Homo sapiens: one gene and its partners. The protein of the gene in region 1 interacts with the protein of each later gene in a pairwise test. Each region holds a gene or a part of one and is shown in the gene's direction. Other genes may lie near its edges.

The links.
Region 2: the proteins of TSPAN7 (region 1) and GPR35 interact in a two-hybrid assay, tested with the Homo sapiens proteins (one large-scale study listed by BioGRID and IntAct).
Region 3: the proteins of TSPAN7 (region 1) and CCR9 interact in a two-hybrid assay, tested with the Homo sapiens proteins (one large-scale study listed by BioGRID and IntAct).
Region 4: the proteins of TSPAN7 (region 1) and BTG3 interact in a two-hybrid assay, tested with the Homo sapiens proteins (one large-scale study listed by BioGRID and IntAct).
Region 5: the proteins of TSPAN7 (region 1) and CHRM2 interact in a two-hybrid assay, tested with the Homo sapiens proteins (one large-scale study listed by BioGRID and IntAct).
Region 6: the proteins of TSPAN7 (region 1) and CHRM4 interact in a two-hybrid assay, tested with the Homo sapiens proteins (one large-scale study listed by BioGRID and IntAct).
Region 7: the proteins of TSPAN7 (region 1) and HTR4 interact in a two-hybrid assay, tested with the Homo sapiens proteins (one large-scale study listed by BioGRID and IntAct).

What each region holds. Positions count from the first base shown.
Region 1 is NC_000023.11:38,673,042-38,676,541, forward strand, and holds part of TSPAN7 (tetraspanin-7), read left to right. Parts: intron 1-1,179; coding exon 1,180-1,275; intron 1,276-2,663; coding exon 2,664-2,819; intron 2,820-3,500. UniProt on the Homo sapiens protein: May be involved in cell proliferation and cell motility.
Region 2 is NC_000002.12:240,624,315-240,628,279, forward strand, and holds the start of GPR35 (G-protein coupled receptor 35), read left to right. Parts: upstream 1-1,165; 5' UTR 1,166-1,254; intron 1,255-3,965. UniProt on the Homo sapiens protein: G-protein coupled receptor that binds to several ligands including the tryptophan metabolite kynurenic acid (KYNA), lysophosphatidic acid (LPA) or 5-hydroxyindoleacetic acid (5-HIAA) with high affinity, leading to rapid and transient activation of numerous intracellular signaling pathways.
Region 3 is NC_000003.12:45,893,043-45,896,542, forward strand, and holds part of CCR9 (C-C chemokine receptor type 9), read left to right. Parts: intron 1-1,174; exon of another isoform or gene 1,175-1,259; intron 1,260-1,863; 5' UTR 1,864-1,891; coding exon 1,892-1,912; intron 1,913-3,500.
Region 4 is NC_000021.9:17,595,902-17,599,401, reverse strand, and holds part of BTG3 (protein BTG3), read left to right. Parts: intron 1-577; coding exon 578-785; intron 786-3,500. UniProt on the Homo sapiens protein: Overexpression impairs serum-induced cell cycle progression from the G0/G1 to S phase.
Region 5 is NC_000007.14:136,867,417-136,871,451, forward strand, and holds the start of CHRM2 (muscarinic acetylcholine receptor M2), read left to right. Parts: upstream 1-1,235; 5' UTR 1,236-1,576; intron 1,577-1,668; exon of another isoform or gene 1,669-1,757; intron 1,758-1,829; exon of another isoform or gene 1,830-1,844; 5' UTR 1,845-2,002; intron 2,003-4,035. UniProt on the Homo sapiens protein: The muscarinic acetylcholine receptor mediates various cellular responses, including inhibition of adenylate cyclase, breakdown of phosphoinositides and modulation of potassium channels through the action of G proteins.
Region 6 is NC_000011.10:46,388,977-46,393,116, reverse strand, and holds the start of CHRM4 (muscarinic acetylcholine receptor M4), read left to right. Parts: upstream 1-1,340; 5' UTR 1,341-1,586; intron 1,587-4,140. UniProt on the Homo sapiens protein: The muscarinic acetylcholine receptor mediates various cellular responses, including inhibition of adenylate cyclase, breakdown of phosphoinositides and modulation of potassium channels through the action of G proteins.
Region 7 is NC_000005.10:148,644,528-148,648,027, reverse strand, and holds part of HTR4 (5-hydroxytryptamine receptor 4), read left to right. Parts: intron 1-3,500. UniProt on the Homo sapiens protein: G-protein coupled receptor for 5-hydroxytryptamine (serotonin), a biogenic hormone that functions as a neurotransmitter, a hormone and a mitogen.

The sequences.
Region 1 (3,500 bases):
TAGCCACCTTAGCTTAGAAGCTGCATGTAACTGGTATCTCTATCTCTTGTAACTGTCCCATGGACATAGTTTACAGCATTTTAGCAAAGAATATGCCTAGTTAGGAGAGTCACCATACTTAGCCCTAAGCTTCCCACCAAGTAGTTATTGTCATTTGCTGTCCTCCCAATCTGGAGGCATTTTACCAATTGGGGGTCAGTTTTATCAATAAACTCAGTGGCCTGGTAACACATTCGACATTCCACCTTCATCAGGTTTCCAGGGAAACAGAGCTTGAAAGTTACCCCAAAGTCAAATGTGGTAACAGAAAAGGTTTTGTTAACTTTTTTTTTTTTTTTTTTTTTGAGACAGAGCCTTGCTCTGTTGCCAAGGCTGGAGTGCTGTGGCACAATCTCTGCTTACTGCAACCTCTGCCTCCTGGGTTCAAGCGATTCTCTTGACTCAGCCACCCAAGTAGCTGGGATTACTGGCGCCTGCCACCATGCCTGACTAATTTTTTTTTTGTATTTTTAGTAGAGACTGGGTTTTGCCATCTTGGCCAGGCTGGTCTTGAACTCCTGACCTCAAGTTATCTGCCCATGTCGGCCTCCCAAAGCACTGGGATTACAGGCATGAGCCACTGCACCTAGCCAACCTTTTTAAGTTCTTGTCCTTTATTATCTTTTTTTTTTAATTTGCCTCAATAAAGACAGGTAAGTGAAAGTTGGTTTTGCCTCACTCCTATGGTAAAACAGGGATCAGTTTTTGACCAAAACATCAGTCATCCTGTCCACCCAAGTGGTTTGTCTTTTATGAGCCTCCTGTGTAAGGGCAGAGAAAGTTATAGAAAGATGGGTATTAATCAATTCAAAGAAAATAAGTAGAAAGCTCATGCCTGAGGTTTGGCAGCTCACCATCACAGGCCTTTCAGAAATGGACAGGCCCCTCCAGTAGGTCATTCAGCAGGTCAGGCTTTCTCTGGATTGAGGCTGAGGGGAACAATTTTTTAAATTCCGGAGCTTAAAAACCCCCTGGTGAATTTTCTGAGCTTTTCCATCTCAGAAAATGGGGCATTGCCTCCCTGGCCTACATTTATACAGAGACTTTCAGAAGAGGCTATGTTAGGGTAGAATTTGGTAAGAATTGGAGTCAGTTTGGGCTGTGGTGGACTGCAATCACATCCCTCCTTGTCTTCCATAGATCAAGGACACCTTCCTGAGGACTTACACGGACGCTATGCAGACTTACAATGGCAATGATGAGAGGAGCCGGGCAGTGGACCATGTGCAGCGCAGCGTAAGTTCCAGAGGAGATGAGGGTGTGAACTAACTATGAAGTCTAGGCTTAGACTTATGGACTGCCTGTAGGTTGGCCCAGTAGTTGCTATTTGTTCCCGTTCTTCAACTCTTAGTCCAGTTCCATTGCCAAGAGTTGACACCCAGTCCTTGTCCAGGCTCCAGTTATTCAGGTAATTAATGTCAAGGAGGACCACTCCCTTGAGTGTGCCTTGTATCAGTAAGGGTTGCAAGTATGGCAAGGACAGCTCATTTGCTCTTCAGATCTGAACCCTTGTGAAGGAGTTAGGCAGTGAGTGTGTGACAACCTTGCTTAGAGTTGGCTCCCGGAGGCTGGCTTTCTGGAATCGATGTCTTCAGGCTGGGTGGAGAGCTCAGGCGAGCTGCATTCACTGGCTGGGGCAGTGGAGTGGGCATAGAGTGGACCTAGAAGAAACTGAGGCTCTGTTAGGTATGTGAAGGTGGTGAGCTGCCTGATGCTTTGCGGAGGATATGGGGGAAATAGAAGAGAGATTTCCTGTCTGGGTGGCAAGTGCTGGCACTCAAGCATAACTGCCCATCAGGAATCACTAAGGGGGATTTTGCTTTGGTTTTTCTTGGTTTTGTTTACTTCAGAAGAAGTCTTTTTTCTAATTTATTTTGATAAAAGTTCCAACATATACAGAAAAGTCTCAGGAATACTACAAGGAACTGTATACTCAGATTTACCAATTAATTATATTTTTGCCCCGTTTGCTTTAATATTCTCTACATTGGGGTTGGCAAACTTCTTCTGTAAAGGATCAAATAGTAAATATTTTAGGCTTTGAGGGCCATAAACTCTGTCACAACTACTCATCTCTGCCACTGTAGCACAAAAGCAGCCACAGACAGTATGTGAACACATAGTTGTGGCTGTGTCCCAGTAAAACTTTATTTACAAAAACAGGTAGCTCCTGGGCTATAGATTACCAGCTTTGGCTCTCCCTTTCTGTATGTGCATCTTTTTTTCTTAAGAACTATTTATTTACTTATTAGTAGATATCCCAGGGGAGAGTTTTTTGAAACCATATTTGCCTCAACTCACCAATCAATAGTCCTGATTTAGTGGATGAGTACATCTATATCAATAGGTGATTGTGAGTTGGACACAGACGCACTGCTTTGCTTTGTGGAGGTAATAAGAAAGCCAATGTGATATATAATTTAGAACTTCCTTCTTGGAGATCAAACAAGCATCAATATGGGTATAATTGTTATTGGAGCTTCCATTCATCTTGACTCACCAAAGCTGCACATGTTGTCTTAGGGCTTTTGCCTGTGTTTCTCTTATAAAAGTCACAAGGCAGTGATTGAGGAGACCACATTTGATCTGCCATTTTTTTATTCTTTTCCTTTCCCTGTTAATAGCTGAGCTGCTGTGGTGTGCAGAACTACACCAACTGGAGCACCAGCCCCTACTTCCTGGAGCATGGCATCCCCCCCAGCTGCTGCATGAACGAAACTGATTGTAATCCCCAGGATCTACACAATCTGACTGTGGCCGCCACCAAAGTTAACCAGAAGGTACCCGCTTTCTCCTGGCCCAGATGGGACCAGTGGTGAATGTTTGGGGGGGCTTTTTTATTTCCATGAAATTATGACAAATAGATTTGAAATAGTAGTCAAGGGAAAGAGAATCTTACTTTGTGGTTCCTTGATTGCCTGGGAGAGGCACTTGAGGCTGCTCACTTCTAAAAGAGAAAGCTGTGACTCAGATCAGCCTTGTCTTTCTCTCCCACAGCAAGGATCTACCAGGCATAGTTAGGAAGGTTTAGCAAGCAGTTCCTGTTAACCCTGATGCTTATGTCAGACAGCGAGTGTTGGCTTTCTTCTTTTGGGGTGTCCGTCTTCTGCTTAATATACCATCTAAACATGAAATTGTTTGCAGCTGGGTGTCAGTTTTTGACAGCAAGAGGGGAGTAGAGTTGACAGACAGCATCTGCTTCTGCTAGGAGGGTGGCCTTTATTTTAGGGAGTTTACTGCCATAGGAAAAGAAATCAGCAACTCTGATTCAACTCACTGTCAACCTCCCGACTCCCAAAGAAATTAGAGAGGGGAAAAAAGAGGACTAAACGAAATTTAAAAGTTAGTACATAGTGAAAATGAGGGAAATGAAGTTTTAGTAGTCAGAGAAGAGGAAAATCAATTCTGCATTCCATTTTACAGAGAATACGATGAAGACATGATATAACTGCATGTGAAGA
Region 2 (3,965 bases), on another chromosome or scaffold:
CAAGGGCGCACACTGGGGACTGGGCCTGGAGGGACAGCCGGGGAAGCAGGAGGAAGGGCAGGAAGGACAGCAGGAGGAAGCAGGAAGAAAGGGACAGGAACCAGGCCCGGGATGACAGCAGAGAAGGACCAATGCCCAGCCAGGGCTTCCTCACGTGCCTCTGGGTAGAGAGCCCTGGTCTGGCTCAGGAGGCCCAGGCACTGGTCTCAGACCTGCCACCACCTGTGTGACGCTGGGCCAAGCGCTTCCCTTCCCTGGGCGTCCGTTTCCACCGCTGTAAAGTGGGGAGGGGTGAAACTGAAGCTCTCCCCAGCCTATCCCAGCCGTTGAGGAGGGAGAGGCTGTGGTCAGGGGCTGTGGGGCCCACGTTGAGGAGACGAGGCTCCTGCCCTCAGGGTGGACAGGGCCCAGGAAGGGGGTGCTCTGCACCATGGGGGCGCAGCCTGGGCCTACGGGCTCCCCCACCATGAGCTCAGAAGGAAGATGTCCGCTGAGGAGTTGGGGGCCAGGGAGAATATTCTAGACCAGATAGGGGTGGTCTGGGTAGGCTTCTGAGGGGGTGGGCTTGGAGGAGGGGCCGGTGGCCAAGTCGGGGGGAAGCAGGGGAGGAGCCAGCCTGCCTGCGTGTGCCTCTCACCTGTGTGCATTGGCGTGTGCATGTGTGTGTGCATGTGTGCCAGCGTGTGTGTGTGTATTGGAAGGCGCCCACGGAGCGTGTCTGCATGAACCAGGATGAGTGTGCGTGCTGCACCCTGTCTTGGGGCTGGGCATGAGGCGCTGGGGAGGGCGAGCTGACCGCAGACCCTGGGAGGGCTGGGCCCTGGGAAGGTTTCCGAGATGACAGGGCAGAAGTGGGCTGGGGAGGAGGAAGGCTCCGTGGGCGGGGCTGGAGCGTCTCTGGTTTTGCTGTCTGTCTCTCACGCTGTTTCCAGAACAAATGTGTGCCCTCAGCAAGGATGCTGGCTCTTCAGAGGTGTCAGCACAGGCAGCCGGCACCCCACTTCCCTCCCAGAAATCCCCCACGCCCTCTAGCTGGGGCTGGTGCAGGAGCAGTGGGGAACTCCTGTTACCCCTGACCTGCTGCCGTCAGTCAGCCGCCCGCCCCCCCACCTTAAGGAGGGGCAGAGTCAGGGACCAGCCCTGAGGGGTGGCTCACCCCAGCTTCACTTCCCCCAGCCCTTCTCAGACAGCCACTGTGCAGGCTTTGGCAGCGGGGGTCACACACTCCACCCGGGAGGCCAAAGCTGCCTGCAGGTCAGTGCCGCCCACTGCCCTAGGGGCCTCCCAGCGGGGCAGGGGCATGGTGGGGGTCTCAGAGTGGGGTGAGGCTGTGATGGGGTCTCAGAGCAGGGTGAGGCTATGATGGGGTCTCAGAGTGGGGTGAGGCTGTGACGGGGGTTCTCAGAGCGAGGTGAGGCTGTGACAGGGTCTCAGAGCGGGGTGAGGCTGTGATGGGGGTCTCAGAGCAGGGTGAGGCTGTGATGGGGTCTCAGAGTGGGGTGAGGCTGTGATGGGTGTCTCAGAGTGGGGTGAGGCTGTGATGGGTGTCTCAGAGTGGGGTGAGGCTGTGATGGGGGTCTCAGAGTGGGGTGAGGCTCTGATGGGGTCTCAGAGTGGGGTGAGGCTGTGATGGGTTCTCAGAGCAGGGTGAGGCTGTGATGGGTTCTCAGAGCAGGGTGAGGCTGTGATGGGGTCTCAGAGTGGGGTGAGGCTGTGATGGGGTCTCAGAGTGGGGTGAGGCTGTGATGGGGGTCTCAGAGTGGGGTGAGGCTGTGACGGGGTCTCAGAGCGGGGTGAGGCTGTGATGGGGGTCTCAGAGCGGGGTGAGGCTGTGATGGGGGTCTCAGAGCGGGGTGAGGCTGTGATGGGGTCTCAGAGCGGGGTGAGGCTGTGACGGGGTCTCAGAGTGGGGTGAGGCTGTGATGGGGGTCTCAGAGTGGGGTGAGGCTGTGATGGGGGTCTCAGAGCGGGGTGAGGCTGTGATGGGGTCTCAGAGCGGGGTGAGGCTGTGACGGGGTCTCAGAGTGGGGTGAGGCTGTGACGGGGTCTCAGAGTGGGGTGAGGCTCTGATGGGGTCTCAGAGTGGGGTGAGGCTGTGATGGGGTCTCAGAGTGGGGTGAGGCTGTGATGGGGAGTCTCAGTGAGGTGAGGCTGTGTTGGGGTCTCAGGTGGGCTGAGGCTGTTGGGGTCTCAGGGGTGGCTGAGGCTGATGAAGACTTGGAGCCTGTGTCTGGGTAGCAGCTTGTTGGAGTGTGGGATGTGACATTTAAAAACAAGAATGAAGAATACCCCGTGCTGTGGCCCCGAGGTGAGCAGCTACTTTGGTGAACTCGTGTCACTCACAGCCCCATCCTGGGTCCTGGGGTGTGGTGTGCTGTGTGGGGCCCAGGCCCAGTGGGGTCACAGGTACGGGGGACTCTGGTGCCTGGGCCACAGGGATCTGCACCTCACTGCGTGCCCCCACGTCTTCAGCAGTGGTTGGGGCCTGTGGTCTCAATCCCAGGCCAGCCAGGCACTCTGGGGTCTGGGCGGGTCCCGGGTCCAGACAGGGGGAAGGGCTGGGGAGGGGCTCTGGTGTGGCTGGATCGCCCGTCTATGGCCAGGTTTCTCTCCTGGATCACTCAGTGCAGAATCAAAGGGCACTTTTCTGCTTTTGTGTGCAGAAGCCGAGGGTGACCTTGTCATCAGAAGGGGAAGCGGGGCCTCAGAGGCGTGCTGCTGGCTCCAATCCCCAAAGCCTCCTGGGCAGGAAGTGGAAGGGCCCCATCCCCACGGTCCCCGGCAGCGGGAGCTCCCTGAGGCTGATGGTGCTGGTGTCTGTCGAGGAAGACAGGCCTGAGGAGCTGAGGCGGGAGGCCAGCTACGGTCCACGGCCTGGACACAGATTCCTGTGCGGGACTGGGGCAGTAGGTGGGCATCTGTGCTGGCCATGTTAGCTCCCAGGGGCCCCATGCCATCTGGGCTAAAGCCTGGGCCTTGATTTCCTGAACTTTTCTGGGAGGCACTCCACGGGCGAGACAAGGACCCATGAACAGGGCACTTCTTCGAAGCCTACGTGCACCTCGAAACTCTTGCAACATTTGCATTTTTCTCCCTAATAGTTCAGTGTTTGTTTTATTATAAACAGGAAAATTTAAATGTTGTAGTTAGAGTTTTTTTCTTCTTCTTAGAGATGGGGTTTCACTCTGTCTCCTAAGGCTGGAGTGCAGTGGTGGGATCATAGCTCACTTCAGCCTCAACCTCCTGGGCTCAAGCCGTCTTCCTGCCTCAGCCTCCCGAGTAGCACGCATCACCAGCCCAGCTAATTTTCTGTCTTTTTTTTTTTTTTTTTTTTTTTTTTTGTAGAGACGGGGTCTCCCTGTGATGCCCAGGTTGTTCTTAAACTTCTGGCCTCAAGTCATCCTCCTGTCTCAGCCTCCCAAAGTGTTGGGATTACAGGCATGAGCCACCGTGCCTGCCTGCAGTTAAACATTCCCCCACAAAATACTGGGCCACACCGAGGCTAGTATGAAAGTTGCAGCCCTGGGTATGTGTGACCTGAGAGCCCCTTGGCAGCCATGGGGAGCGATGGGGGAAGCTGGGGCAATGGGAAGGGGTCTAGGCACACGAGCCCTCGGGTCCTCACCTCCCACGAGGCAGGGTCCCAGGCTGCCTCTACTCAAGGTGGGGCAGCAAAAGAATCGCCCTCTAGCTGTGCAGACCCCCTCCCCCTCCAGGTCTGCACACCGCCCAAGGCTGGCCCTGGACTTCTGGTGGATTCAAGTACTCAGGTGGGGAGAGTAGGAGGCCAGTCGCACGGAGCCCTCCCCAACGCACAGTGCCTGCCCAGCTCAGGTGCCTCTGAGGTGTAGATTCTGAGCAGGTTCTGGGATCTCCTGGCCCCCAGCGGGGGCTGCCACAGGAGTATAGGCCCAACAGGAAGGGAAGATCCCAGCGATTGGTTCCAGTGGGTTCTGGGGATGTCC
Region 3 (3,500 bases), on another chromosome or scaffold:
TTGCGAAGCTCTCACACAACCCAGACAGTGAACATATTTATCCCCCACTGAGGTTTCCTTTGTACCCACCTGCCCTCCTGCCCTCCCACACTCCCCTTCCCTCTCTCTCTCTCTCTTTTTTTTTTTGTTTGAGATGGAGTCTTGCTCTGTCACCCAGGCTGGAGTGCAGTGGTGCAATCTTGGCTCACTGCAACCTCTGCCTCCCAGGTTCAAGTGATCCTCCTGCCTCAGCCTCCTGAGTAGCTGAGACTACAGGCGCACACCACCACACCTGGCTAATTTTTTGTATTTTTATAGAAATGGGGTTTCACCATGTTGGCCAGACTGGTCTCGAACTCCCAACCTCAGGTGATCTACCCACCTTGGCCTCCCAAAGTGCTGGGATTATAGGCGTAAGCCACCATGCCCAGCCACCTCCCCTTCTCTCTCTCTCTATTGCCAGGACATCAGTGATTCTGCTTTCCGTCAGTATAGATTAGTTTGCATTATTTAGAGTTTTATACAAGTGAAATCATACAGTATGAACTCCCTTTGGTCTGGCTACTTGGCATAATTGTTTGGAGACTTGTCCATGTTGCTGTGTGAATCGGTCATTCATTCCCTATTCCATTGGACGGATATTTCACAGTTAACTTATCCATTTACTACTTGATGGACATTTAGGCTGTTAGCAGTTTTTGCCTACCACAGAGTAAAGCTGTAATAAACACTCACATACTAGTCTTTATGGGGACATATACTTACAATTTTCTTGGGTGAATACTTAGGAGTGGGATGACTGGATCACATGGTGAGTGCATGTATAACGTCTTAAGAAACTGCCAGTTTTCCAAAGTGGTTTTACCACACATTATGCATTGGAAACCACTGTACTTTCAGAAAAGCAGGGTGGGGTCATGATGTTGTTATGGAAAGGAAGCCAACAGGTTGGCTTTATAGGATTTATGAAAGAGGCTATTTTTTTCGAGAACCTTGGGGTGTGATGCTGGACAGGTTTCCTTGAAATGTACTCGCTAAGGGTATAAAAGGAAATGCCCCAGCTCAGGCACAGACTTCGTCCTCGAAGGCAGTCAAGCTGTTGTTTCTTTGGTTATGTAGGGGTGGGCTTTAAAGAAATTCAAAACACATGAAAATGACAACTCGAGATTTATTTCAGTCAGTTCCGAGGCCCTGTGCATTAGGGAACTAGAACTCATTTTCTTCAGTACACAAACCTAGGACTTCCTTTTCCTGCTGAAGTCAGGGTAAAGAGGAGAAAGGTGGGTTCTGGGGGCACCGGGTCTTTTAGGGAGGGGCCCCAACCCCAGTGGGCACCACCCAGCCCTCATGTTCTTCTTGCCACCTGGTTACTCAAAGGCCCTTTTCCTGGGGAGTCCAGAGCCCAGGGCATTCTCAAAGCGACCACTGTCCTGTTAGCTTCGGTGAGTCCCTTAGCTGATAGAGCAGGGGGAAGGGGAACCAGTCAGCAAAACAGGACTTGACAGACAAGCTGAATCAAGGGAAAGGGAGCTAATGTAGAAAGGATGAGCTGGGAAAAATGTAACAGCCCACCTGCCATTCCTCATTTGTGGATGGGAGATGTACTAATTATTGTCTAAGTAGAAAGAAAACAAATGCTAGAATCAGGTGACCCTCAGAGTCAAAGAAGTGAATGATAACTTCAAAGGAGAGGTTCATTCATTTCTGTGTGGACTACTCAGATGATTCTGAAATCTAGAATACTATATAGACTCTAACTCCTGCTTGGAATATTTTTTTCAGAAGAATAAGCAGATTTAAAATTTAATCTCCATCTTTTTGGCATTTGGTTGTTACTATTCGTTTACAAGCCAGTCCACTTTTTGATTTTTGTCCCTTTTCCAGGAGCAGGCTTGCATCTGACTGACCCACCATGACACCCACAGACTTCACAGTGAGTACAGCCGTGCTCCTCTGGCTCCTCAAAACACACACTCATCTTCCCTTTTTAGGGGGTGTGGGAAGGATCCACTGTGGGGGAAGGATTTATCTGTGTGGTTTCCCAGGGTAAGATCTCTGCCTGGCAATGCGCATTGCTGGGTAGGTTGTTGTCCAGCACAGAGGGTTTTGCAAATGCAAAGAGGCAGCTATGCTTTGGGGTATGTTGTGGAGACAGAGGAAAATGTGGTGTTATAAACAGCTAAGGATTTTTAACCATCTTTAACTAGGGTGTGCTTAGTTCCATATGCCTGTTCTAAAACTCAGACAAATGAGGCAAAGGGAGAATTCATGTAATTTGCTTTTAAAAAACCCATGGTGGGCACATTAGTTGTATTTCTTGCATAACATTATGTAGACCTTATGAAAACACGTAACAGTATACATTCCCCTGAAAGAGACCAAGAGCTGAGCAAAAATTAGTGAGTCAGTCTGGGCGTGGTAGCTCACGCCTGTAATCCCAGCACTTTGGGAGGCAGAGGCGGGCGGATCACCTGGCCAAGGCCAGGATTTCAAGACCAGCCTGCCCAACATGGCAAAACCCCATCTCTACTAAAAATACAAAAATAGCTAGGTGTGGTGGCATGCGCATGTAATCCCAGCTACGTGGGAGGCTGAGGCACGAGAGTCGCTTGAGCCTGGGAGGTGGAGGTTGCAGTGAGCCAAGATCACGCCATTGCACTCCAGCCTGGGCAACAGAGCGAGACTCTGTCTTAAAAAAAAAAAAAAAAATCAGTGAGTCAAATCATAATCCAGAGAATCTTTTTTTCTTTTACAGCCGAATGTAATTAAGTGTAGAATCAAATTAATTTCCCATGCTTTTGTAACATTCATAAATGCCTTATAAAATTACCTAAGGGCTTTGATTTTGCTCTTCTCCAAGGGAAAGCCTGGGTTTTACATGTAGATAATTGAAATCCAGACTTCCTAGCAGGCGGGCTAACAAACTGCCTCACAGTACATTGTGGGTTTCCATGATCTATGGAGAGTGGTGGTTGAAACAGTTTATCAACTAAATTATTTATGATATGCTAATGATTCATTAGTATTACATATGTATAGTTACCTAATTGCACCTATATCCATAACAACAAAAAAGTAATTAATTTGGTCCTGGTGAAGTAACTATTATTCTGACAAAAAGTAGACTCTTCAGTTTCTCCTGCATTAAATTCACCTTTCAATCCCTGAGGCTGTGGAAACAGAAGTAGATGAAGGCAGCAGAGCCAGGGCTGCTTCTGAGCTTGCCAGTCATTTGCTTTTATCATTTGGGATCTTGGATAATAGCCAACTCTGCAAAGCAGCCCCAGATAAGAAGGAAACTGCACCTCAGTAATGACCTGCTCTTGTCAGAGGAGTCTGGCGCCATCTAAATGGGAAGAAGATGGGACCCCTGTGGCCCTGACTCCCATATTCCATGGAAAGTAGCCGTGGCACCCTGTGGCCACCTTTCTGAGGATGTGCTGGGCCAGTCACCCATGCAGGTGCCCCACATTCCCTCAGCGTCACAGTAAAGGCAGAGTCCTTTTTACAGATGAGGAGAC
Region 4 (3,500 bases), on another chromosome or scaffold:
TTGGGACCAGCCTCAGCAACATGGTGAAACCCTGTCTCTAAAAATGTATATAAATTAGCTGAGCATGGTGGTACACTCCTGTAGTCCCAGCCTCTTGGGAGGTTTGAAGTTGGAGGATCGATCACCTGAGCCCAGGAGGTAGAGTCTGCAGTGAGTTGTGATTGTGCCACTGCACTCCAGCCTGGGCAACAGAGTGAAACCCATCTCAAAAAAATAAAAATACATCAGAATGTTTTATTGTACAACCAATTTCATTGGTACATACAAAAATGTAATCAAAACAATGGACTTTTTTTGATGTTTTAAACAATTTTTTTTTTAGGAATTAGTAGAAAGAAAATAAGGGAAAGAAAATGGGGTTATGTTTATGAATACTTAAATAGACCAGAAGTAGAAAACTGTGGTTTGCTTGCTGGCATTGAGCTGTATTAGGATATTAAATGTGTAGGGTCAAGTTCTGTGATGATTCAATCTTTGCCTTGTATTGATGGCATGTCCAGATCTCTTTGTTTTTATGGACATTTTTTGCTTTGCTGATGTGACTTCAAGATTTGTAAGTTTTTAATTTTATTCTTAGGTATGGAGAGAAAAACAATGCATTCATTGTTGCCAGCTTTGAAAATAAAGATGAGAACAAGGATGAGATCTCCAGGAAAGTTACCAGGGCCCTTGATAAGGTTACCTCTGATTATCATTCAGGATCCTCTTCTTCAGATGAAGAAACAAGTAAGGAAATGGAAGTGAAACCCAGTTCGGTGACTGCAGCCGCAAGTCCTGTGTACCAGGTAACCATGAAAACAGCTCAGTTTTAAAGGGATGTGCAGGGATTGCCAGGACCTTTCAGGTAGTCCTACTTGGCATTGCCCAAGGTTTCTGACTTGAGATTCTGGATAATAGTTCTTGCCTTTCCCCATGCTAAGGGAAAGCTGTTTCTCTGGCACGTAAATAGGCATCCTGAGTCATTTTATCAAAGGTCAGCTTCACTATACAATAACTAGGATAAATATATTTCAGAAAAATTGGCAAAAAGTAGAAAATTCATGATGGTAAAACATTCCTGATATTTTAAAATCTCATTCAAAAGTTACCACTTATTTTTTGTAGTATGTAACACTTTGTTTTGTACCTTTGGGTTTAACTTTCTATTCTCTCCCGTTCCATGATTAAAGAGAAACCTCTCTAAATTTATTATATTATAATTAATATTTTACTCAAGCTGAAACATTGTCTCCCTTTTTGCTTTACTAGTTGAAAAGTCATATAGCTAGTGTGCCTGCACTTACAGATCCATTCACTGATTTACTATTTATATCTACATACCAAAGAACATTTAATCGACTTTAAAAAATTGTTGACCAAACAGCATTCTTCAACAGGAAAGATATTTTAAAGTCATAACAATTTAAAGAGATTTTTTGAGTTGAGCCTTATTCTGTAAATGTACTTATTACTAATTTTTAAAGGTTATCTATTTTTACTTACTTGCTTTGATTAAATGTGAAACATACCAGGTTTGTGGTAAGGTTGAGCTGAAAATGAAAATTTAGACCTAATGAGTAAGAAGCAGAATATTGGAGCTTTTAGTATGATAAACTAAACTTTTAAATTCAGCATACATTTACATAATGAACATTATTTCAGTGTAACTTAATTTTTGGTTTTCTCATTTTTTTCTCAGTTGAATTATTCTTCCTAGACTTTAGGGGAAGATTATTTCTGAAGATTATCATAATTTAGGATTCTATGTATATGTGTATGTATATGTATATGTATATAACATGTACCTGGCTTTATGAAACTTCAAACAGTACAAGACAGTATAATAGTGAGAAGTCCTCTTTCTCCCCAACCACCAGTCCCTATGCATTTCCACAGAGACATTCATTACCAGGTTTTTTTTTCTTTTTTTTAGTATCCTTCCAGAGACATTCCCTATATAAATAAGTAAACATAGTATTTGTACTTCAGGATCATTTTTAAAAACCTTGCCATAAATATTTGAGGCATTTTTTTTCTCTGTGTGATGGATTATATATTGCAAATTAGGTATATTGAATTTTCTGGAATTCATCCAAATGTGTGGCAATTTTACCTCAGAATTTTATTTGTTGTTAAGCAAGAATGTAAGTCTCAAATTAAATTGATTGCTGCTAATTTTTTACAAGCAAATTAACCTTTAATTTTTAGGATTTCTTTTAAAATTAAATTGCATTTATTTTCCCTCATGTTGAAAGACTATTAGGATAACAGAAAGGTATGGAAATTGAGGTGTCTCTTACGTGCTTTTTAAGGAAAACATTTCTCCTTGGCCTAATACTCATTAGCAAAACATTTTATAATAGAGAAACACTACTTGTGTGAAAGCTAGTGCAAATGGCCCACTTTGATTTTCTTCTTTCTAGTATCTTGAATCTGGCATTGCCACAAGCTTTAAAAAAGTTTTATCAAATAAGGACAACAAAATTTCTAGCTTGGAATTTTTGTTCTCTACTGTTTTCTAAAAGGTATCCCAAGAGAGGGGATAAAGAATTATTCATATCTTAAAAAACGAAGAAATGAAGATTGTGTCAGTTCTCCTGAAATAGATCTGTAGATCCAATTCAGTATCAATGAACATCTTAAAAGGTTTTTTTCTGGAAAGTGACAAATTGATTCAAAATTTTAAAAAAGGAGGATCAGTTGGAGGGCTCACACTAATTCAAAGCTATTATATATTCATCAAGACAGTGTGGTAATGGTTTAAAAACATACAAATATATTGATGGCACAGGATAGAGAGTCCAGAAGTAGACCCACATACATACAGTTAGTCTTTTTTCTCCCTTTTAACAAAAGTGCCAAAGCAATTCAATGGGGAAAGTCTTCAAGAACTTGTGCTGAAACAACTGGATGATCTGTGTAGGAAAAAAAACGAACCTAACTTAGCTGACACCATACACAAAAATATTGATTTGAGATGGATTGTGTACCTAGACATAAAAGATAAATCTCTGACGCTTTTAGAAGAAAACATAGGGAAATATAATCTTTATTTTGTGACAGGCAAATATTTCCTCTAGAGGGTCACAAAAAGTAACTAATAAGGGAAAAAAATTGACAAACTGGACTTCATCAAAATTAATCATCTTTTTGTTCATCAAAGAAACCATTAAGAAAATGGGCAAACCATAGACTAGGACAAAATATTCTCATTACATATATCTGTAAAGGACTTATTTCCAGAATATACTTTTTTTAAAATCGCTCACAAATCACTAGTAAAAGGTAAATGATTCAATGAAAAATAATGGGCATATCCTGCTGTAATCTCAAAAAAAGGGCAGGAGGAGCAAAAGATGTGAATAAACACTTTACAAAAGGAGTTATGTGAATGGCCTCATTTATGATCAGAGGAATGCAGATTAAATCCATATGAAACACTAGTTCTTCCAGAACTGCACAATTTAAAAGCCTGACAGCATGAAATGTTAGCAAGGATGTGAAGCAGCTAGATTCATAAA
Region 5 (4,035 bases), on another chromosome or scaffold:
TACTTTTATCAAATGAGGTTAGTATCTAAAAATAATAGATACAATTATTGGCAGAAATTTCTCATTAAAATAAAGAAATAAACATCAAAGGCAGGTCTGAACACAGAAAGTTTGCATCCTAAATCTTTTTTCATGGAGATCACAAATTCCCTGAAGCATCAAACATATATATATTCTGGAGATATATATATATATATATATTTTTTTTTTTGAGAGAGATATATATATATATATTTTTGAGATATATATATATATTTTCTGGATATATATATATTTTCTGGATATATATATATTCTGGACATATATATATTCTGGATATATATATCCTGGACATATATATATATATTCTGGATATATATATCCTGGACATATATATATATATATATTCTGGATATATATATATATATTCTGGATATATATATCCTGGACATATATATATATATATATATATATATATATATATTCTGGATATATATATCCTGGACATATATATATATATATATTCTGGATATATATATATTCTGGATATATATATATATTCTGGATATATATATATATATTCTGGATATATATATATATATTCTGGATATATATATCTATATATTCTGGATATATATATCCTGGACATATATATATATATTCTAGATATATATATTCTGGATATACACATATTCTGAATATAGATATAGATACAGATATAGATATAGATATATTCTGTAGTCTACTGCCCATTAGCTGAAGAAAACATGGTCACTGGCTCATATTTAAAGTAAGAGAAAAAAATTACTTCTCCTTCGGATACATTTGTCAAAGCTCCAAAGAAATAAACAATCTGTGAATAGTTCAGCACAATTATATATTTACAAAGCATAGTGGATTTAGTCTAACATTTTCCCACCTGGAAAAACTGGGCTTAAGTATCTCCGACAAACAAAAAGCAATACTGCGTTCTTCCCAATATGCCATGTCACCTTTGTAGCACTCACACACTTGCAGGGAAGGGACTCGGGGTTGGGGGTGGTTCTGATGTAGAAATTGCAGATGGAGAGCTGGGCTCTGGGGATGGAAATGGAGAGAAGCGAAAAAGAGCCTGGAGAAACGGCTGTCATATTTGCTCAGAAGAACCGCCAAATCAGAGAGCACAGAAGATTTCATTGGAGGAGCGCCTTCAACAGCAACTAATCCTGTCATACTGAAAGAAAATTGTAAATGTTCTCTCCAGAAATTGTCCGCCCATTGCAGCTAATCGAACACACACGCACGAATACAGACACGCTCTCCTGCTGTACTAAAGGCGCCAGGGCGCAAAGACCTAGGGAGCGCGCGCGGGCACACACACACACACACACACACACACAGACACACACACACTCACACACTCCAGGCTGCGGGTTGGCCAGAGCCTGGAAATCGCAGATTTCACCAGGAAATCGCCGAGGTACCCGAATAGGTGTTGCCTCCCAAAACTAATTCCTACTTCCCCAAGCACTTTGGTGAAGAAATGAATCCAGCCCAGCTCGCCGAGGCATCCAGGTCTCCATTCTATTTTGGTCTCCAGGCTCTTCGTGAAAGCCAGGTTTGAAAGTCTTGTTTGCTTCTCCTTTAGTGGTTTGGCGTGGAGGGCGGGGGCAGCGTCAATTTAACTCCAGTCTAAACCACGAACAGGTCACAGACTAGCCAAGTGGCTGAGACGAGTGTGGGGTGCGTGACTCTGCCTGCGCGCGCGCCAGCCCCGCAGCTCTCGCCAGAGCCTTGGGGTCGGTTCTCTCCCGCCTCTCCCGCCTCTCCCGCCCCACCCCTACAGTGTCTCGGCATCAACTAATCTTTTCCTTTTCTTTTGCAAGATCAAGGGAGAAAGAGAACCGGCAGCTGGCCTCGGACTCTAAGCGGTGCGCAGCTCCAGCCCGAGCGGATCGGCCCTGAACCCACAAAGGACTCCTCGCTCCTTCAAGCCTCCACCACCTCGCAGCCGGGGAGGCAACTGGAGCGAAACCAGCGACAGGTAAGGGCCCCGCGCTGTGCAGCTCTCCGCTTACCCACTCCAAGGGCCCTGGCACCAGGGGGTCTCTCCCTTCATATCCCCCCAAGCCGGAGGCTCAGGGGTCGGGGCTTGGGGGAATTGGAGGGAGGTCCTCCCCACGTGCAGATTCTCAAACGGAAACTTTGGATCCTGGGGCTTGGAGGGTTGCGAGCAGTGATGGCGGGTCTGAAAGGAAGGGGCAAACGAGGCACAGCGCGAGGCGAGGTACCCCTACGATTCCGACGGTCACTGAGTCCAGCCGAATGTGGCGAAAGCAGCCTGGGAGCTGCGCTGTCCCGGCGTCGCTCCCTATTCCAGCCCCCCATTCCCTCTACTGTTGCTGACCCCCCTCCCGCCACCCACTCCAGATGCAGCCATGGACAAGACAAGGAGAGCTTCGTCCCTCCCGCCCCTCGGGTTCCTTCCTGCTGGGGTCTGACCGCGTCTTCTGTGCGTGTGGGATGGAGGCCCGGCTCGCTCGGGCTCCGAGCTGTCCCCCGGCTCCGCTTTCGGAGCAGCCCTTGGGCGCTGGAGAGGTTTCCCATTGCGGTCTCCAGGTCATGGCCAAGGAGGAGAAGCAATTAGAATGGGGGAAAGGGTCCCAAGACAAAGGAGAGGGAAGCATTCTGCAATCCCATCCTATTTGAGCCCCGCGCAGGAGCTGGACTGTCCGCCGTGGCTGGGGGACAAGGTCTCAGCCCGAAGCTCATGAGGTACCAGACAGTGCCTGGGCTTCGCCACCTAACTCACAATGGGTCCTGAACCGCCCGGGCAGTCCCCGGGGTCGTAGACTGGGGACCGCTGCACCCCTCCCCGCCCGCAATGTCCCTTGGAGTCCGCACCTGAGGTCCCAGGCAATCGCCGCTAACTTGTAGCTCTCGGACACGGACAGGTGCGGTCCATGCCTGGTGCCGGTAGACGCGCAGAAATTCCACCTGTGCGCGCTGCCCGGCGCCCCTGGGGCCCCTCACGGGGTAAGTAGAGACTCATCTGGGAGAGGTGAAAATTCCCCAGAATTATTGACACACACGGCGGCACACCCTTTGCCTCCGTCCGCCTCCAGCATCCGCATCCCTTTCTCTATCTTCCTGCCCATTGCCGTCCTCGAGGCTGCCCTGAGATACAGAATTGTCCCAGGCTGAGTCCACCGACCCGCCAGTCCCTGGCGATGATGCCAAGGCTCTTGCATGTACGGAAATACCAGCAGGGAGGTTCGCCAGGGGCAGAGAGGCTGGAGGAGAACAGAGAATTGGAGGTAAACGCGTAAAGCCAGCAGAACTGTCGGTGGACATTTCACCCAGGCCGCCCTCCCGCGTCTTTAAGTCAGTTCACCGCCACAGCACGTCTGTGACTGCGGCCACCCAGGGCTCCAAGTCTGCCAGCCCAGGCGCCGCGAGCCAAGAAGAGCGCGGCGCCTCCCACTCCTCAAGCTCCGGAATCCCCCACATCGACTTTCTATTTCCCTGTCTTCTTTTCTTTTTTGTTTGTTTTGCTTTTCCTGCTCTTTTCTTAGCGCTGGGTGGCAGTGGGTATGCGGCAGCCGTGTGATTTGCCCATCCCCTAGTACACGCAGCCAGCGACACAAGCACACAGCGACCAGTCCCCACGCTGTGCCACACACCCTCCAGCGGTCCGGCGCGCAGCCCCTGCTCCACAGCCCGGGACGCCTGCAGCCACCGCCAGGGTCATGGCCATGGCCCACGCAGGGCTCTGCGGGTGGAGAGGGGAAGTCAGCCTAGACTCCAGAGAGAAACCCTGGGGCAACCCGAAAGGCCTGAGGAAAACTGGAATTGGGGTTAGGCATGAGGGGAGGGAGTCTCTGGGGAAAACGGGCCGGGCTGTGCGGAGCCCTGAGGGCTCCTGCGGCTGCAGCGCTGCAGGCCGCCCGCGTCTCGCCCCGCCCCGCCGCTGGGCGTCCCCGCCAGGAGCCCACCCGCGGGCGGCAGCTTTTCTCCATGCTGCCCAGGGAAGTTCGATGCCTGGTGCTGGGATGCGCCAGCGCTTCTGTTCGCTTC
Region 6 (4,140 bases), on another chromosome or scaffold:
CTCGCGAGCTCTGGGGACCCGAACTCCACTTCCGGGTTCCGCGCGGAGAACCCCACACCAAGAGCCCCGCAGCGCTGGCTTCTACTCGAGTTCCCTCCCATTCTCTGCCAAGAGGCTCCTGCCTCTCCTCCACCGCCGCCCCCGCAATCGCCCTCACCACCTCCGGCCCTCGGGGGAGGGTCTTGAGTTGTTTCCCCGAGAGAAGAAATCAGACGTCTTAAGCTTAATCAAATGTTTGCGATCAGAATTTGGGGTTACAGGCCTCGGTCCTGGGCGCAGTGGGGAGCGTCCGACCCCGGCGGTCCCCCGGAAGGGCGCTCTCGGAGGGAGACAAGCGCTGGAGCGGAATCAGGCAGGCGAGGCTGCTGGGCCAGGGCGCGGGGAGCTCTCCGAGGTGCTGAAGCCGCCCCAAGGTCCGCCCAGCCTGGGCGAGGCCCGGAGTCCTGAGGCTACGGCCCGTGCGGTTCCCAGCGACCTCTGAGATTGGCTGCCCGCTCTCCGGGATCTTGTCCCGGGCTCCGGCCCCGGCGACCTTGGGCAACCGACTGTCCCTCACAGGCGGCGGTGAACTGGCGGTCCAGGCTGCGCCTGGACTGGCGGCGCGTCCCATCCCAGGGCTGGGAGAGCAGGGGCGCGCCCCTTCCCCGGCCCGGAACGCTGAGCAGGCAGCCGAGCGGGTGCGGGCGAGTGGTCCGCGGTGGGCTCTTCTCTCCCCGGCCGAACCTCTCCAGTCCACCCGCTCCTGCGCTTCCCCAGGCCCCGACGGCGCCCCTCCTCGCGGGCGGCCCGGCCGGCACGCAGCGGCGCGGCTGGAGCTCCCGGCCCTCGACCCCGACGGATCCCTGGCGGCGCAGCCCGCCCCACCCACCCGCAGCCTCCCGCTGGGGTCAGACTCCCGCGCCTCGCGGCCAAACCGCCAGCGGGGCCACGCAGGGCGCTGAGGTCCCGGAGAGGCGCGAAAATAGCTCAGGGTCCCGGGAGTATGGTCAGGGCGGAGGCGGGAGCGCGGCCGGACCCAGCTGCCAGCTCCTTCCCCAGCCCGCGAGGGGGCGCCGCGTCCCCATGACAACGCGGACACCCCCACCCCCCGGAGGGCAGCGCCCCCTGCTCCCCTGCGTCGCTGGCCGTGGGCGGCGCCCTCTGTGCCCAAGCAGGGAGCTGCCGGCCAGCCCCCGAGAGGGGCGCGGACCGCCGGGGTCTCCGACGCCTCGGGTGTTGACCCCCGCGCGTCGCCGCCGGGTGACCGGCCCGGGGCGGGCGGCGCGGCCCCGCCACGATTGGCTGCTTCCTCGTGACATCACGCGGCTCGGGGAAAAGTGCGAGCGTGAGCGCGAGTCGGAGCCACAGCGCCGGGAGCTGCGGGCGGAGCAGGGGCCGCCCCTCGACACCCCGTCCCCGCCCCCGGCCCTCGGCCCGGCCGCCCGCCCCGCCGGCCCGCGGGGCCGCGCGTCCGTCCCGCCGTCTGTCTGGCGCGAGGGGAGCTGGGCAGAGGCGGCGGGTAAGTGGCTCCGCGGCGGCGCGGGGGCGGGGGGCTCGCCGGGAAGAGCAGGAAGCAGGTCCCCGGGACGCTCTGAGGCTCCCCAGAGGTGGGTTCGACTGGGACAGGGCGCCAGACCCCCTCCGGGGCGAGCGCGGGCCGGGAGCGGCAGTGGGCCGGGGCTGGGGGACCCCGCTGGAAGCAAGGCCGGGGGCTCTCGGAGGCTTCTCCAGGTGCGCCCGGGTGCGCCCGTGGGAAGGGGTGGGCATCCAGGATGTCGGGGGCGGGGGATTGCCCGCCCACAGACCCCACGGAGCCAGGGGCAGCCGTCGGGGGTGGGACCCTGTACTCCAGCCCTCCCACTGGCGGCTCAGCAGGGCGCCGGGCGCTGAAGCCCCAAAGAGCCCTTTTCCCGCCGTCTCCCCGCCCTCCCTCTCCCTCCACCCCTTTGCCCCCGCGCTGCCAGCCCACTCCGGCCCCTGGAGTCCTCCATCTACGACCTTGAGCCCCGACGGAAAACACCCCTGCCCTCCCCGACACCCCTCCCCCGCTCCGGTACTACCCCCCTTTGCTGCCCAGCCTCCAAGCCGGGGTCCTCCAGCTCCAGGCCCCCTCCTCCGGCCCCGCAACGGAAGTGTTGGGCACAATGTCGGTGCCAAATCTTCGCCTCTCCCTCCCTTGGACTCTGGAGTCTCCTCTCCCGCCCCAGGGACAGATCCAGGGGCCACAGCCTTCCCAGAGCCATGGAGTGAATGCCCAAGAACCGAAGACCTACACCCCAAACCACCCCACGGGCGTGCGGAGCACCCCCTCCGGTCTCGCCCGGGGAAGAGGGGTGTCGAGGACTCGGGAAACACAGTGCCCACGCCCAGAGGCTGCAGGAACTGCGTGCTAGGGGCTTGGAGGGAGGGCGGGGCACCCGAGAGCCAGGGCTCCTTCGACCACGGCGGAGACATGGAGGAGCCTCCAGATGGCCTAGGAAAACACGGCCCTCGAGGCCCGCCCGACCCTAGCGTGAGAAACTGGGTCCCCACTTTGGTCACAGGGGCTAGACAGTGCCTCTGGGGTAGGGTGCAGGGTGAGGAGAGAAGGAGGACAAGAGTCTTGCACTCGCCTGACCCGAGCTCTGTCCGGGCCTCCGCCTTGTGGGTGCACTGCGGATGCCCTCTCGCCGCGAGAATGGGCGGCTTTTGGCAATAACGCCTCTTAGGGGAGTTATTAGAGCTGAGCGTGCCTGGTGTCCCTCAAGGCCAGGTTGGGCGACTCTCGCAGAGGCCCCTCGACAGATGTCAGTCAGAGGCTAGGACTCTGCCACATCTTTAAGGACTTGGACACCTCTGGGCACCGGGCTAAGACGGCGTCCCAAAGTTAGGTGGCCCGTCGCAGGCAGCCCCTAGTAGTCTGGCCTCCTCGCCCGCACAACCCTTCACCCACAGGCCAGGTGCAATCCCGATGCAGGCTCCTGGCCCGACCCTCTACGCGCTCAGGCGGACAGCTAAGGTCTGGCTGAGTCTCCGGCAGGGGCGTTTGGAATGTGACCGGTCACCCACTCTCGGCCCTGCATTTGCTTGTGCATGCAAGTCCACAGGTGTAGAGGCACCCGAACCGTGTGCATCCTCCCGGCCACAGCACCCTAGGCACGCACACGCATGCACATGCACGTGTGCACACGGCGCGGCATGCTCACGCGCTCTCACGGGCGGACTGGTATCCAGGCGTGGCCGTGCGCACACACACGCACATGCATACAGCTACTAGCGTCTACTCGCGCTCCCCCGTAGGCACACACAAACAGAACTCGCACTCGCGCTCCCGCCCACACGTTCCTCGCAGGGTGCCGGGTGGAATCCGGGCTCCCTCAACTTTCCCACCCGAGAACCCCGCGCGGAGCCGAGGGCAGCTCTGGGGCGGCGTCCGACGGGGCCTGGCGAGGGGACCCCGCGTCACTTCCCCGGGAGGCTGTGCCTGAGGGCTCCTCTGGGTTCGCAGTCGCATTGGAGTTGGGGGCGGTGGCCAACGGCGGCCGCACGGTCTAGGTCCGGAGCGGGCACCAGGGACCGACATTGCCATCTAGCGGTGCGCACAGCCCCGGCGGCGGCGGCTCGCTCCCCAGATGCCAGGCGTATCTGGATTCCAGGGAAGGCGCCAGAGGGGGTCGGAATGTCTGCGGGTGACCCCGAGGTGTCCAAAACGACGACAGCTGGGGCGGGGCGGAGTCGGGGAGACCCTGAGCCTCGCCCTGTCAGCACCTGGCAGCTCCCTCACGCGGGCCAAGAGCAGGACTTAATCACCGGCCATCCAGTGGTCCCGGCTCAGCCCAGCCGCCAGGATCTGGGAGAAGACAAGACATCGCTTGTCTTCTGGGAAAGCTAAGTCGAGAAGCCAGCAGGAATGTGAGGGGACCCTACCCAAGCCTCACCTGGACAGTCCCTCAGTTGTGTGGTTTTCGGGTCGAGGGGAGCAGAGGCAGGAGGTCAACTCTGAGCAGTAGCACCTTGGACTTTAAGAAGGAGCTTCCCGGGTTCTTCTGCCCCCACCCGTACTTCCTAACCTGGTGACTTTGGGCCAGTTGATTAACATTATCCTCATCTATAAGAGGATATTTACATCTGTAAGATGAGGACACTAATAATACCTGCCTTTTCAGGCTGTTGTAAGGATTA
Region 7 (3,500 bases), on another chromosome or scaffold:
CATTCTTTGGACAATTGCAAAGTTGTTGTTTCTTATTCTTATTTTTATGCTGAGGAAACAAACCAAGACAGGTGACCTGACCAGTCCAAGGTCACTCATGAGGTGGTAATTGGGCTGGGACTTAACACTGGCAGTCTGAATCCCCAAACCACCTTCTTCTTTTGTTTTGTTTTGTTTCTGAGATGGAGTCTCGCTCTGTCAGCGAGGCTGGAGTGCAGTGGTGCAATCTCAGCTCACTGAAACCTTCGCCTCCGGGGTTCAAGCGATTCTTCTGCTTCAGCCGCCCGAGTAGCTGGGACTACAGGCATGCAACACCACGCCCAGCTAATTTTTGTACTTTTAGTAGAGACAGGATTTCACCGTGTTGGCCAGGCTGGTCTCGAACTCCCGAGCTCAGGTGATCTGCCAGTCTCGGCCTCCCAAAGTGCTGGGATTACAGGCGTGAGCCACCACCCCCGGCCCTAACCACCTTATTAACCACTAAGCAGCTTTGTCTCCCCTGTAAGGGGAGAGGGAAAGACTCACTAAAGTTCAGGTAGTGGCAGGGCAATGTCCAGTGCCCAGGTCATCTGATTCTCAAGCTCTGGTAATTTCCATTACATTGAGCCACAAAAAATAGTCCACCTTCCAAGTAGTAGAGTTTCTTTGCTCCCCCAAAGATCGGCAGTTTTGGTATTTTACAATCTACCTTAGATCTCTGGAAAATCTGATTTTTGACACAGATGATTTCATAAAATGAATGCACTCTTTCTTCCTTCTCAACATTTCAAAATAATTTATGAAAATGACAGACTGAGAAATTACCATTTTGGATAACTTTTTGCATTGTTCAGAGGACTTTCACATAAGTTATCTTATTTGAACTTCATGAGTGGTAGCAGGTCTATAAGACAGGTGGGCTGGATGTCTTAACCACACTGAACAGCGATAAACCTGGGGCAAAGGGAGGAGCTCAAAGTCACATGATGCCAAGAGCAAAATTGAGCCTTAGTTAAAAACATATTGTCTTTCAAGTGCTGGTAGACATTCTGGAAGCTTTGAGAAGCTAAATAAGTAATAGTAAATTAAGCTGGGAGAGCTGAGATAGGGGATCATTGAGATCTGGGTTTTTTGTTGTTGTTGTTGTTTGTGGGATAACTTAGTAGTTAAAACTCTAGACTCTGGTCTGGAATTGCTTTGGGCAGCTCCTCTTTCCTATGCCTCAGTTTCTTCATCTGTGAAATGAGAATAATTGCAGAACCTCCTGATAGCGTGATGTGAAGGTGAATGAAGTAATGCACGTGAAGGGTTAGGTTCTTGGTCTGTTATAAAAATGTGCCATTGCTTTCCTTCTGCTTCTTCCCCAGGATCCCTTTCTTCTGTGTTAAATGGGCCCCTCTAAAATCTATGGGTATAGTTTTATTTTTTGCTCCAGGGGTTGGTTTAGAAACTTTTGGTAGGAGATTGTAGACAGCAGCCTTTGGGGAGGTGACATTTTATTAGTCTAGGAAAAATGTAGATTTTGCTTAAGAATTTTCACCTAAGAGGCTGTAAATAGCCTATGTCTTTTGAGATTGCACTGGCATGTTTAATTGGATATGATCATTAGCACATGATATCTGAAATGGAGAATTCTGTATAAATGGTTTCCTAATCCAGGAGGTTCAGAAGAAATAGCACAGAGTGAGGACAGCAGAGGTAAACATGCCTGCAGAAACCTTTCTCTTGGCATGCAGAGCAAATACTATAATCCAGGTGTCTCAGCCAATGAGGCATTTAAACAGATACAGAAAAATCATTAAAGAGGATTTCAGAAGGGTATGCTCACCTGGACAGATTGCACTCCATCCTTCCAGTGTCTCCTGAACTGCTCTCCAGGAATCATTTTCATCAGAATCACTGGGGCATTTATGATTCAAAAATGCTTTGAATGTGGCAGTGCCTGAATCTACAGTTTTCCATGTGATTTTTAGATATACTAATGTTTGAGAACCACTGCTGTCAACAGCATAATTCTGTAAGATTCAAAATACTAGTTGTAAAGAGTTAATTTAGCTGAAATGCAAATTTTGATTTGACCTGCTCCCAATTCCAGACCTCTGAAATCAGTAATGACAAGAACCTTTGGGCATTTTCAGGCTCAGTCTTCAGAGGCTTATCCTATAGAGAAGAGGAATAATTTCTGTAGCCACATCCCAAAGTAGGGGAGATGGGCCACTAGGTACACAGCTGCCTTTGTGAAGAAGCAGAGTAGGAAATATCTACCCTGCAATGATTGGGGCACAGGAAAGCTGGAATCCACCTTATTACAACAGCTGGTTAATGTCATACTGTGAACTCATTGAGCACCTGCTTTGTGAGTATTCATTTTCTATTTTTAAATTTTGCATCAACCTTGTGAGGTTTTTGGTATGTTTATCTCCATTATACAGATGAGGCTGCTGAGGCTAAGAGAAGTCAAGTAATTTGCCCAAGGTCATATTGGTAGTTAATAGAACTAGGACAGATTCCAGGGTTGTGGTTTGAATCAGGGGTTGGCAAACTATCTGGCCCACTGCCTGTTTTTGTGTGGCTTGCAAGCAAAAAAAAAGATGTTTACATTTTTTAATTGTTCAAGAAAATCAAAAGGAGAATAATATTTTGTGACAAGTGTAAATTACATAAAATTCAAATTTCTATGTCCATGTATTTAGTTTTATTGGAACACAGCCATGTCCATCATTTATGTATTGTTAATGGCTGTTTTCATACTACACAGCAGAGTTGAGTAGTTGTGACAGTGACCTTATGCTCTTGAAAGCCTAAAATATTTGGTAAATAGCCATTTACAGAAAAAAGTGCCACCTCCCACTTGAACCATTATGCCTGCATTTCTCAAACTTCAGCCATTTGAATTCTACTCCTTCATGATTCTTGCCACCTTTTCATACCATCTGGAACATTAACTGTGTGACATTTTTCTTTAGATCAATTAATTTTCCTTAAATAAATTTATTTTATAAAGAAACAAAAATGAAAGCGAAAACCAGTACCAATTGCAAGAAATAGAAGAAAACTGTAAAAACAAATACAATATACCAAGAACAGTGTATTCATATTAGATTTCAGCTAAATAGCTGGAACAGACAATGTTGGTGTTGCTTCATTTCCCTGCAGATCCCCTGACCATTTCTCTGTAAGCCATCAGACTTCCAATGATGGACCTGAAACATTTTTGGAGGGCTGCTCTCAGTCTACTGGAATCCCCTTTGCACACAAGCACAATAAATTGGGGGTGCCTGAGAATCCAAGTTCCACTGTGGATAGCTCTAACCAACAAATTGTGGGTGCGGGAGTATCCACATCCCACCTTCCTATCCCCTTGTCTGGAAGAATTCTGAGGCATATGTTTTACACCATTTCCCAAAGCTTCCCTGTGAGATTAAGCTTCAGTGTCTTAATAACACACATCTTATTGACTGTGTCTTATTCCATTTTTTATATTATTATTCCCCTATCAGTGTACTGGCACCTGCCAAATT